Linked DNA regions of Homo sapiens. The protein of the gene in region 2 interacts with the protein of the main gene of each other region in a biochemical or structural test. Each region holds a gene or a part of one and is shown on either strand. Other genes may lie near its edges.

What was found.
Region 1: the proteins of ITGB7 (region 2) and MAPK8IP1 form a complex in vitro, tested with the Homo sapiens proteins (one study listed by IntAct).
Region 3: the proteins of ITGB7 (region 2) and EED form a complex in vitro, tested with the Homo sapiens proteins (one study listed by BioGRID).

What each region holds. Positions count from the first base shown.
Region 1 is NC_000011.10:45,888,598-45,892,347, reverse strand, and holds part of MAPK8IP1 (C-Jun-amino-terminal kinase-interacting protein 1), read right to left. Parts: intron 1-3,750. UniProt on the Homo sapiens protein: The JNK-interacting protein (JIP) group of scaffold proteins selectively mediates JNK signaling by aggregating specific components of the MAPK cascade to form a functional JNK signaling module. Required for JNK activation in response to excitotoxic stress.
Region 2 is NC_000012.12:53,193,515-53,197,264, reverse strand, and holds part of ITGB7 (integrin beta-7 isoform a precursor), read left to right. Parts: intron 1-444; coding exon 445-686; intron 687-1,065; coding exon 1,066-1,224; intron 1,225-1,543; coding exon 1,544-1,639; intron 1,640-1,801; coding exon 1,802-1,891; intron 1,892-2,122; exon of another isoform or gene 2,123-2,920; coding exon 2,921-3,067; exon of another isoform or gene 3,068-3,363; coding exon 3,364-3,557; exon of another isoform or gene 3,558-3,750. UniProt on the Homo sapiens protein: Integrin ITGA4/ITGB7 (alpha-4/beta-7) (Peyer patches-specific homing receptor LPAM-1) is an adhesion molecule that mediates lymphocyte migration and homing to gut-associated lymphoid tissue (GALT).
Region 3 is NC_000011.10:86,254,627-86,258,376, reverse strand, and holds part of EED (polycomb protein EED), read right to left. Parts: intron 3,156-3,750; coding exon 3,090-3,155; intron 1,991-3,089; coding exon 1,865-1,990; intron 863-1,864; coding exon 781-862; intron 1-780. UniProt on the Homo sapiens protein: Polycomb group (PcG) protein. Component of the PRC2/EED-EZH2 complex, which methylates 'Lys-9' and 'Lys-27' of histone H3, leading to transcriptional repression of the affected target gene.

The DNA.
Region 1 (3,750 bases), on a different chromosome or scaffold from region 2:
GAAATCTCTAAGTTAGTCCACTTTTCCAATCAACTTCCTGTGTCCCCACCTACACCAGAGTCTGGGCTAGGATGTCAGGTCCTCTGGGAAGACGGTGCTGGCTGAAACGGTGGGGTGGGGATGAGCCAGACCCAGCATCCCTCTCAGGCCCTCGCTCTACCCCCACCACCTGGCTCTGGGTGAACATGGGGTTGGGCTGGGTTTGTTCTTTGGGTCAGAATTCCCTTCCTGACCACCTCCATACGGAGGTCATCTCCAACGAAAACTGAATCCAACCAAAGAAATGAGCCCCGAGGGACAACCCCACTTGCGGTTATAACATGTTTGATCTGTTTAAACATCTTCATGCTGATACATTGCAAGAACTCTGGGATCCAGTTGTTCGACTTTTGGGAAACTGCTTCGAGGAAACAATCCCACATTGTTTGGAGAAGAACTGTTACACACAGGATGTTCATTCCTCATCACAGCAAACAACTGAAAACACCTGCGTCACCCAGCACCAGGGGGCTGGTTCCATCGTGGCCATCAGCAGATGAAATGTGATGCAGTCTTTTGGAATCAACATTATAAAGTCTGTGTATTAAGGTGACAACTAATAAAATGAGCAAAAAGACAGCATATATGATCCAGTGGTCTCCCCAGGATGATATTGCACACAGGAAGAAACACTCACATGGACACAGAGTTGTGAGATGGGGTAGAATCTGGGGCGCTCTTTTCTCCTTTGCTGTCCTTCACAGACTTTCATCTTGGGTCATGCCAGCCTAGCATGGGCTCCCCGTCTGCTGCTGGGCTGCCTGCCCTCCCCAGAGCTGCAAGTTTCCTGAGGGCAGGGTCATCATACTCACCTGGGCACTGACTCCCCACCTTTGCTCCAATCTATGCACAAAGCCCAAAACCCTGCACACCATAGGTGCTAAATCAGTGCCTATTAAAGAGGCACTGCAAGCAACATGACAGCAGGAGCCATGAGCTCTCCACTGGCATCTCCAGTGGCGGAACAAGGCAAAGCACCCAGAGACGCTCCTGCTATTTTGGAATGAATACAAGAGTGGGGCCAGGGAACAAAGATGGCATCATAGAATGATTAAGAACTACGTGTGGATGGTGGCTGTGACCCAATTTGTGGGAACCATGGGGGCCCCAAGCTAGAAGTGTGTTGTGGCCCATTTCCAGCAATCCAGAGACGAACTTTAAAGCTCTGCCATCAGCGAGCTGGGGTTGAAATTCTGCCCTGGCCACTGCCGGACTGTGTGAGGCAAGTCAACACTCTCTGCCTCCACATCCAAGGTCCATCAGGAGCCAGGCCAAGGCGGTCCTGGGCATGAGGCAGCTCCAGCAGCACCTCCCCACCTCCACCGAAACATGGTTGGCTGAACAGGCCACCGGCCAGCCATCTTCCTGCCCTCTGCTCAGTCTCCCTGGACAGTGATGTCCTCTCTGAGGCTTCAGTGGCCATCCCTCCAAACTCAGACTCCCAGGGTCTTTGGCCCCAGCCCTATCCTCTCCTCTGAGCTCCAGACCCAAAACCGACTGACTGTATGATTCCTCCAATTGGGTCCTCCAATGATCCCCAGTCTCAAATTCAGCAGGTTCCCACATGATTTTCACACCCTGCCCACCGCCCTCTGGTCTCCCACTGGACACCCCACCCACCAAGGAGCCCCAGCATCATCCTAGACTCCTGCCTCCCCACTCCCTATTCTGTATCCCTCACCAAGCAGGCTAATCTGCCCCCTAACTCTTCCTCACACCCTGAACCTGTCCCTCCTTCTTACCAGCAGGATGGCTAGTCCCCTGGCCGCTCTCTACCCAGCAGCCAGGTGATCCTCCTAGAACAAGCTTGTCTAACCCATGGCCCATGGGTGCGTGAGCCCCAGGATGGCTCTGAATGTGGCCCAACACAAATTCATAAACTTTTTTGAAACATTATGAGATGTTTTTGTGTTTTAGCTCATCAGCTATCGTTAGTGTTAGTGTATTTTACGTGTGGCCCAAGATAATTTTTCTTCCATGTGGCCCAGGGAAGCCAAAAGATTGGACACCCCTGTCCTAGAGGATCTGTCTGACCCTGTCATTCCTTTCCTAACCCCCTGCCAGCTCCTCTGGCTGTTGGTGAAGAGGTCGGCATCGTCACATGGCCTACAAGTTCCTGCACATCCTGCTCTCCACCCTCCTGCCAGACTGGGCACCAGACACCCTGCCCACCCGCTCTGGTCTCCGCCCTTCACTCCAGTGACACCCTTGGGTGATATTTTTATGCGTCCACCAGGCCTAAGCTGAAATGTCCCTGCCTCTGGGGGGCCTGTCTAGACCCGCTGAGCCTGGGTCCCTTGACCTGAGCCATCATCACACCGACCAGCCCATCTGTAAAGCCGTCTGTCTGTCTGTCTCCCCTCTACAACACCAATAGCATGATGGCCAGGCCCACGTCTGGGCCTTTGCAGTGTTTCCCTGGTGACCTAGGCAAAGTGCAAACGTTTGTTGAGTGAATGAAGGAAGAAGCCTCTCGGTGGCCCCATCTCTCATCCCTGAGGCAGGGTGCTGGGGCAGATGGCAACCATCCAGGCAGCCATGGCCTGGCTCTATCCCAGCTTTGCCACTAATTTGCTGTGTGCTCTTGGGGGAGCCACTCGCCCTCTCTTGTTTCCTCATAAGGGGAGGGAGCTGGTTGGACGAGCTGGTCTCTAAGGTCTCTCAGATCCACGATTCCCCTTCTACACACCCCAGACAGGCCGCTCGCTCCCTTCTTGTCCATGAAACCCCCTTTGTCTCTGCTGTTCCTCCCACGTGAACTGTCCTTCTGCCCCTCCTCTTTGTCCCACCTACCCAGTGCCAATGTCTCCACTGTGTAAATTTCTAAATTCTCTTTTCTAGAGTTTTCTTTATAATGAACATGTATCACTTTAATTTTGAATTTTCTTTTATTATTTTGTAAGACACAGAAGTAACCTATACTCATTATAAAATAAGAAGTCAAATACAGGTGAGCAGCCCTAATCCAAAAACCTGAAATCTGAAATGCTCCAAAATCCTAAATGTTTGAGCACCAACATAACAGCACAGGCTGTAAATTCCACACCTGACTCCACATGACAGGTTGTAATCAAAACTTTGTTTCATGCACACAATTATTTAAATTATTGTATAAAATTACCTTGAGGCTATATGTATAAGATATATAAGAAAAAATCAATTTCATTTTTAGACTTGGGTTCCCATCCCCAAGCTATTTCGTTATGCATATGCAAATATTCCAAAATCCAAAAAAATTAGAAATCTGAAACACTTCTGGTCCAAAGCATGTCAGATCAGGCATACTCAACCTGTAATATAAAAGTATGACACTGGGCGTGGTGGCTCGAGCCTGTAATTCCAGCACTTTGGGAGGCTGAGATGGGTGGATCACCTGAGGTCAGGAGTTCAAGACCAGCCTGGCCAACATGTTGAAACCCCGTCTCTACTAAAAATACAAAAATTAGCCGGGCGTGGTGGTGGGCACCTGTAATCCCAGCTACTTGGGAAGCTGAGGCAGGAGAACCGCTTGAACCCAGAATACAGAGGTTGCAGTGAGCTTAGATCATGCCACTGCACTCCAACCTCCAGCCTGGGCGACAGAGTGAGACTCTGTCTCAAAAAAAAAAAGTATGTAAAATAAGAAGTAAAAATCCCTCACCCCATACCATACCCAAAGGTAACCAACCACTATAAACAGCTGGAGCTATAATCAGAACAAAAATTAACACG
Region 2 (3,750 bases):
TCTGGAGAGACTGTGCTCAGGCACTCTCTGGGCCTGGACAGCTGCCCTGGGCCTACCAACCTGGAACCTGCCCTGATGCAAGTCTCCCTGGACAAGACCTAGATGCCACTGTCCCTGGCTCCACATTCTGTGCCAACTCTCCTCTATTCAAATTTCCTTCCTTTGCCTCATGCTGCTACCATATCCTATACCCGGGCCTTCTTCCGCCTTCTGGAAGTTCCCATTTGCCCAGGAAGTTGTGTCCTCCTCTTAATGTCTTCTACCTGCCACTTCCCTGAGCCAGTGGTCTCACTGCTTTGCTTGCCAGTTACCAGGTCCCTGCCCCCTAGGTGCACCCTCTCCCATCACCGTCCTCCCCACCCCACTTCCCATAGAGCGCTCTCATGGGTCCTCTGTTGCTGCCCTGCGACTTCTGGCACAACCTTCATTCCTCTCCTCTCCCAGGTTTTGGTTCCTTTGTGGACAAAACGGTGCTGCCCTTTGTGAGCACAGTACCCTCCAAACTGCGCCACCCCTGCCCCACCCGGCTGGAGCGCTGCCAGTCACCATTCAGCTTTCACCATGTGCTGTCCCTGACGGGGGACGCACAAGCCTTCGAGCGGGAGGTGGGGCGCCAGAGTGTGTCCGGCAATCTGGACTCGCCTGAAGGTGGCTTCGATGCCATTCTGCAGGCTGCACTCTGCCAGGTGAGGAGGTGGGGCGGGGATCTGAGCCTGGAGGTCTGTTTGGGAACAGGACTGCCCCTTATGGTTGTGTAGTGCACAGTTCTAGGGGGTGCCATTCATACCATAGTTGCTGTAGTTTGTATATTTAGCAATTACCTGGTGGGTTGGAGTAAAATATCTTGAGGAGGAGGCATGTTTTTCGAATTCACAAGTAAGCCTCCACTAGCAGCAGCCTTCTTTAGGGGGCTGGAGAGAGCAGGGAGAAGCAAGGTACTGGAGGCAAGGGGATGGACAAGCTGACTCAGAGTGAGGCTGGCCACATTCTTGGCTCACAGAGCTGGCTGGGGTGGCTCAAGGGCCATGCCCAGGTGCATAGCCTACCACCCCCACTGTAACTCAGGAGCAGATTGGCTGGAGAAATGTGTCCCGGCTGCTGGTGTTCACTTCAGACGACACATTCCATACAGCTGGGGACGGGAAGTTGGGCGGCATTTTCATGCCCAGTGATGGGCACTGCCACTTGGACAGCAATGGCCTCTACAGTCGCAGCACAGAGTTTGTGAGTCCCTATTGTCACCCTGCCTCTCCCCATTTCAGCCACACCTCTTTCCTTCCAGGACTCCCACTCCCAGCCTTACAGTCCTCACCAGTAACCACCCTGTAGACACCCTGCCATCTTCTCCAGCAGTTCCTCCTTTCAGCTGCCGAGACAGGACACCTTTGTCACCCCATTCCCTACCTCCTTCCTATTCCATAGCAAGCCTCCAGGGCTCCTCCAGCTGGTGGAACCTTGGTTCCTGGATTCCCTGGGCTGAGGGCACCTTGCATGTTGTGGGGGAAACCTGTGGGGCTCACCTTGTCCCTGCTCCCTGTCCCAGGACTACCCTTCTGTGGGTCAGGTAGCCCAGGCCCTCTCTGCAGCAAATATCCAGCCCATCTTTGCTGTCACCAGTGCCGCACTGCCTGTCTACCAGGTGAGAGCTGTCTACATGTCAGATCCCCCAGCCCCATCCCAACCTTTCTCAATTCCCCCAAAGATACATTCTCCGTCCCCCATATGCCCTCCTTCCAGACCTCCGGGAGCCCATTTTCCTAGAGCTGTGACCCACCATTTCCCTTAACTCCCCAAAACTCAGGAGCTGAGTAAACTGATTCCTAAGTCTGCAGTTGGGGAGCTGAGTGAGGACTCCAGCAACGTGGTACAGCTCATCATGGATGCTTATAATGTGAGGGGCCAGGGGAAGGGGAGATGGTGAGGGTGGGCACTAGGGAAAGGTGGAAAGGGGCCCTTGGGTGGGGTGGCAGAACTAAGAGGAAATGGTCACTTTTTGGTCTAACATTCCACAGCTCCTACCTATAGTCTGCATGTGGCTGTCATTAACTGTTCAATCTTACATTCATAAATCTTAAAACATCTGACATGCAGACAGCATGGAGCTCTGCTCTGGGCAAGAAAGGAAAGTTTCAATCACTGAGCTTTTATTTCATGCGCCCACCATCCTAGGTGTACATACTGTTTGCTACTTCATTTAACCCTGCCAAAAGCCTTGCTTCATAACTGTTACCATCCCTATTTTACAGATGAGGAAACCCACACAAGGAGGCTAAGTGACTTGTCCAAGGTCACAAAGATAACAAACAGAAGGGCTGGCATTTGTCCCCAGTCAGTCTGTACATAAACAATGTGAGATCTGGAGCCTGCTTTCACTAAGTTTATAAATAATTCAGAGCTATTCTTCACAAGAACCATAGAATTTTACAGGTAGAAGGAACCATAAAAATTCTTAGTGGTTTAGGTCTTACCTCTGCAACTAGGCTGTAGGCTTCTTGATAACAGGGAGCATCTCCTAAACCTATGGCAAGAAAATCTGAGACAGTATCAAATTTCCCAAGATAAACTCTGTAATGAATCTGCCCTTTAGACCTGGCATGCACCCAGGTTATGTGTCCTGATGTGGGGCTTCACAAACATGGTCTCTGTACATTTACAGCACCTGGCCAGCCTGTGACCCTCAGTGGCCCTTGCTGGCAGCTGCACTGAAATGCTGTATTAGAGGCCTCTGGATCCTGTATGTTCTATGCAAGGTTCTCACGGGTCCTCCCTCCAGAAATGCCTCGACTGGGCAGAATGGAAGGAGCCCCAGGTGGCAGAGGGCAGGGTGCTGGCAGAATTGGGAACACCTGGAGAGGACATAAGGTGGGGTTGGAGTCCTTTTCTGCCTTCACGTGGTTATCCACTCGCTCTCTTCCCATAGAGCCTGTCTTCCACCGTGACCCTTGAACACTCTTCACTCCCTCCTGGGGTCCACATTTCTTACGAATCCCAGTGTGAGGGTCCTGAGAAGAGGGAGGGTAAGGCTGAGGATCGAGGACAGTGCAACCACGTCCGAATCAACCAGACGGTGAGAGCCAGCAAGCACAGGCAGAAGGCGGGCAGGGGGAGGTGGGAGTGGGAAATTAAGCAGGCAGGAAAAGATGGGTGGCAGGTACAGGGAGTGACATGAGAGCCTGAGGTAGTCCTCCATCCATCCTTCCTGGAGCAGTCTGAGTGGCTTCCTCAGGCATGTTTCTAGGAGTTGGGTGTTAACATGACCCCATCCCTTCATTTACTAAGGGGTGAGGTTCTGGATGATTGGTGAGTTTGGGGTATGTGTGTGTGCATGTGTATAACCATGGCCTGATTCCTGCCTCTTCTCAGGTGACTTTCTGGGTTTCTCTCCAAGCCACCCACTGCCTCCCAGAGCCCCATCTCCTGAGGCTCCGGGCCCTTGGCTTCTCAGAGGAGCTGATTGTGGAGTTGCACACGCTGTGTGACTGTAATTGCAGTGACACCCAGCCCCAGGCTCCCCACTGCAGTGATGGCCAGGGACACCTACAATGTGGTGTATGCAGGTGAGGGCCTCCTCTTCCCTTCAACCACCTGGCTCCCAACAACCAACCAACCCTGGCCCGTATTCCTCCGCTGCTTTCCATCCCCCCCACAGGAGTCTCCTCGACATCCCGACTCCCCACTCAGTTTCATCCCTTGAAGCTTCCCATGTATGTCCAGGCCCTCCCCCTGACTGGGGCTCCCTCCACTCTCTCA
Region 3 (3,750 bases), on a different chromosome or scaffold from region 2:
GAATATTTCAAATAACTTATCCTGAAAAACGTAGCATTTTTAAGAAATTCTATAGGAAATCCTTTATAAAACAAAAGCTTTTTTAAAAAATAAAAAAGCAATATGAATTTTCATATGTAGTATTTATTATTACATGATTGGACAAAATGATTTGGATATGCTAACATAGCCTGGGATTTTCCTACTAAAATGTACTGTTATAACCTTTTTTTTAATTTGGCTTTATTTCCTTAGAACACTATCTGTCCATACACTGGGGCCTACTGGAGGGTAGAGGGTGGGAGGAGTAAGAAGATCAGGAAAAATAACTAACAGATACTAGACTTAAAATAAAACAGGACCTGTCAACCTAAGTAACAGAGAGGCTCTCTAAAATAAAAGATGTTTATATGGAAATAATGCACTGCAATGAGAATGTACATGCCAAAGTAAACTATGTGTGTTCTCCGAGACGTAAAGGAAAGACAGAGGTTTTTAAAGAAAAAAATGAGAAGGATTACATAATTGTTTTGAAATAAGATTGGCCACAAAATCAGTAACAAGGGTGATGCCAGTCTCAGGATGGAGAGGCACTTACTGCCAGTATTTTCTGTGTAAGGCTGTGATGGCCTTTGTGCAAGGTTGTGGTTGTGTTTTTTTGTGAGTTTTTATTATCAGACATACAAGCATGTGGACTCTCTTCTCATGGTTTTTCCTATTTGTCAGGGTTTTCTTGACATTAGTGACTCCATCTTAATTCTGACAAATTGCACAGACTCAAGAAACATTTGCTTCACTTACCTTTACTTACTGACAGGAGAAGATTTGGATCTCTTGGATGGAATTTCAGCTCATTGATAGCATTTCCATGGCCAACATAGTGCTACAATAAATTTAAAACATTTCAAGTTTCCTATCTCAAAATCAGTAAATTTTTTTTCATAAATCTTTAGAGAATGTAAAAATAGTTTCACTTAAAGTAGTGGTTCTCAACCTTGGCTGCATACTAAAATCACCCAACAAACTTGAGGTGAAAAGGAAAAAAAAAAAAAAAAAAGACCCCAGGCACAGTGGGTGGCTCATGTTTTTAATCCAAGCACTTTGGAAAGCTAAGGCAGAATCGCTTGAGGTCAGGAGTTCAAGACCAGTCAGAGCAATGCAGCAAGACCCTATCTTCATACACACACACACACACACACACACACACACACAAATTAAAAATTGGCCCCAGCTACTTGAGAGGCTGAGGCAGGAGGATCGCTTGAGCCCAGGAGACGGGCTGCAGTGAGCTATAATCATGCTACTACATTCCAGCCCGGGCAAAGGAGTCAGAATCTGTCTCAGAACAAAAAAAAAAAAAGATGCTCAAAACTCCACCTGCAGATATTCTGATCGGATTAGCGGAGGCTCCAATATGCGTAGGGTTTTAAGCATCCTCAGGAGAGTGTGATGTAGCCCAACAGTTAAAAACAGGTGATGAAAGTGATTTGAAAAACCCGTCTTCTTATCAACTTCCTAGGCTTCACCTTTATGTTCGTTACAAGGTCCCTTTGATAACACCCCTCCAGTTTAGGTGTCTTGGAAAATGGACTCCCTCTTATTGTTCATTTAGAGCCTCTCAAAGTAAACCATGACAAGGGTGAAAGAGGGAAATGATTTAAAAAGAAAGCACTACAAATATTAACATTTTCCCACTTATTCCTTAATTTACATTACCCAAATGTGACAAACGTCTCAAAAGACTCATCCAAAGAGAGCAGTAAGAAAAGTACAAATCAAATGAGAAATGTTACATTCATACCATTAGTTTTAAATTTAACATTACAAGTTTTTACAGTTGTGGATTCAAAAGAAGCAGATCTACAATTTAACCAGAAAAACCCACCTTTATACACTGCATTGTTATAGGATTTATTATCCTAATTATGCCTCTAGATCCAGCTACAGCCAGCAGAGGATGGCTCGTATTGCTATCATAGGTCCATGCACAAGTGTAAAAGTTTTCATCAGCCTAAGAAATTCCACAGTTAAGAAACATAATGTTTTTGAAAAAGAAACATGTCAATAATTATAATAGAAACTTATAAAGAACTGCTAAAGTTTTTGACACCAAAGTTCTCAATTTTCCTTATACAACCAAATATATACAATGGTGATTTGAGGTCTAAAATCCATAACAAATGATCAAACAAAATTACAGTCTCTCCACTCAATTTTGTTTACTCTTTAGCTGCTTGTACAACTACTCAACTCTGTAGTTGCAGTACCAAAATAACTGCAGAAAATATACAAATGAATGGGCATGGTTGTGTTCAAAACAAAACTTTACAAAAACAGGTGACCAACCTGCACGCTGTAGTTTAACCTCTGCTCTATCCCCATACCTCTATAAATATCTAAAAAAGAACAATTCAGTTTTCCACTTTTTTCTTTGTGAGACAGTCTCAATACAACAACAGGTCACATTTCAATATCTTTTAGAGAAGACTGAATGTCCTTGCCTTGTCTTGTTTGCTAGGTTTTTCAAATGGATCTGGAAGAAATATCTTATTACTTAGCTTTTACCGCTCTAACTCGGGCTTTTCAAATTTTTCTGTTTCTTTATGAACCTGTTTTGCAATTTTTATTTCCTATTTTATTTTATTTTTATATATTTTATTTTTCCTAAACTTTTTTTTTCTTCCTAGGCTTCGTTGATCAAATACTTAGAATGACTACCAGTCACAAGCCAAGTTCATCATTATAACTACAATGAAATGATATATTCTAGGCAAGGTCAAAGAAAAAGGAGGTTTTAATCAGTCTTTGCTAATATTTTCTATTACTAGATTTCTAATGCTCCTATCTCTATAGACATCTGCACCCAACCAGCACATCCATCCCACAATGGATTCTTTTCTTTTTCTTTTTGCCTAGCTGAGTTGACACATACCACAATGGATTTCTAAGGGTCAGGAAAACTAGATACAGGATTCTCTTGGGTGATAGTGAAGAAATCGGTTAAGAAAGAACAATAACTTTAGGGAAATGATTAATTTATAAAAGTTTTGGTGCACTTATTGAAAATAAATTCCTTTGACTAAAGATATTAAAAACCCAGGAAAGGATACATCAGCATCCACGTAAGATTGCAACAACCGGATTTCTCCTTGTGAATGACATTCATACAAGGTAACCTAATGAAAATAAAAATACAGTAAATTTCATCTCAAGTATAGAAAACATACTCTCTCCAACTTTTAAACATATTTTAATCGCAATCCTATCTTAAATATACTACAGAAACTACTGCCTTAAAATACCTCCTGTGAGCTTAAAGAAGCCATTATAAAGCTGAATGTTTTACATAATACACAGAGCATATTAAATATTGCAGTAATAGTCGTTTCGATTTCCAATCTTTTAAACTTATATTTCATCCATTCAATTGCCTAGGCAACATAGCAAAACCCCATCTCTATTAAAAAATAAATATTAGGCCGGGCACGGTGGCTCACGCCTGTAATCCCAGCATTTTGGGAGGCCAAGGCATGCGGATCATGAGGTCAAGAGATCAAGACCATCCTGGCCAATATGGTGAAACCCTGTCTCTACCAAAAATACAAAAATTAGCTGAGCGTGGTGGCACATGCCCGTAATCCCAGCTACTCAGGAGGCTGAGGCTGGTGAATCACTTGAACCCGGGAGGCGGAGGTTGCAGTGAGCCGAGATTGCACCATTGCACTCCAGCCTGGCAACAAAAGCGAAACTCTGTCTCAAAAAAAAATAAAA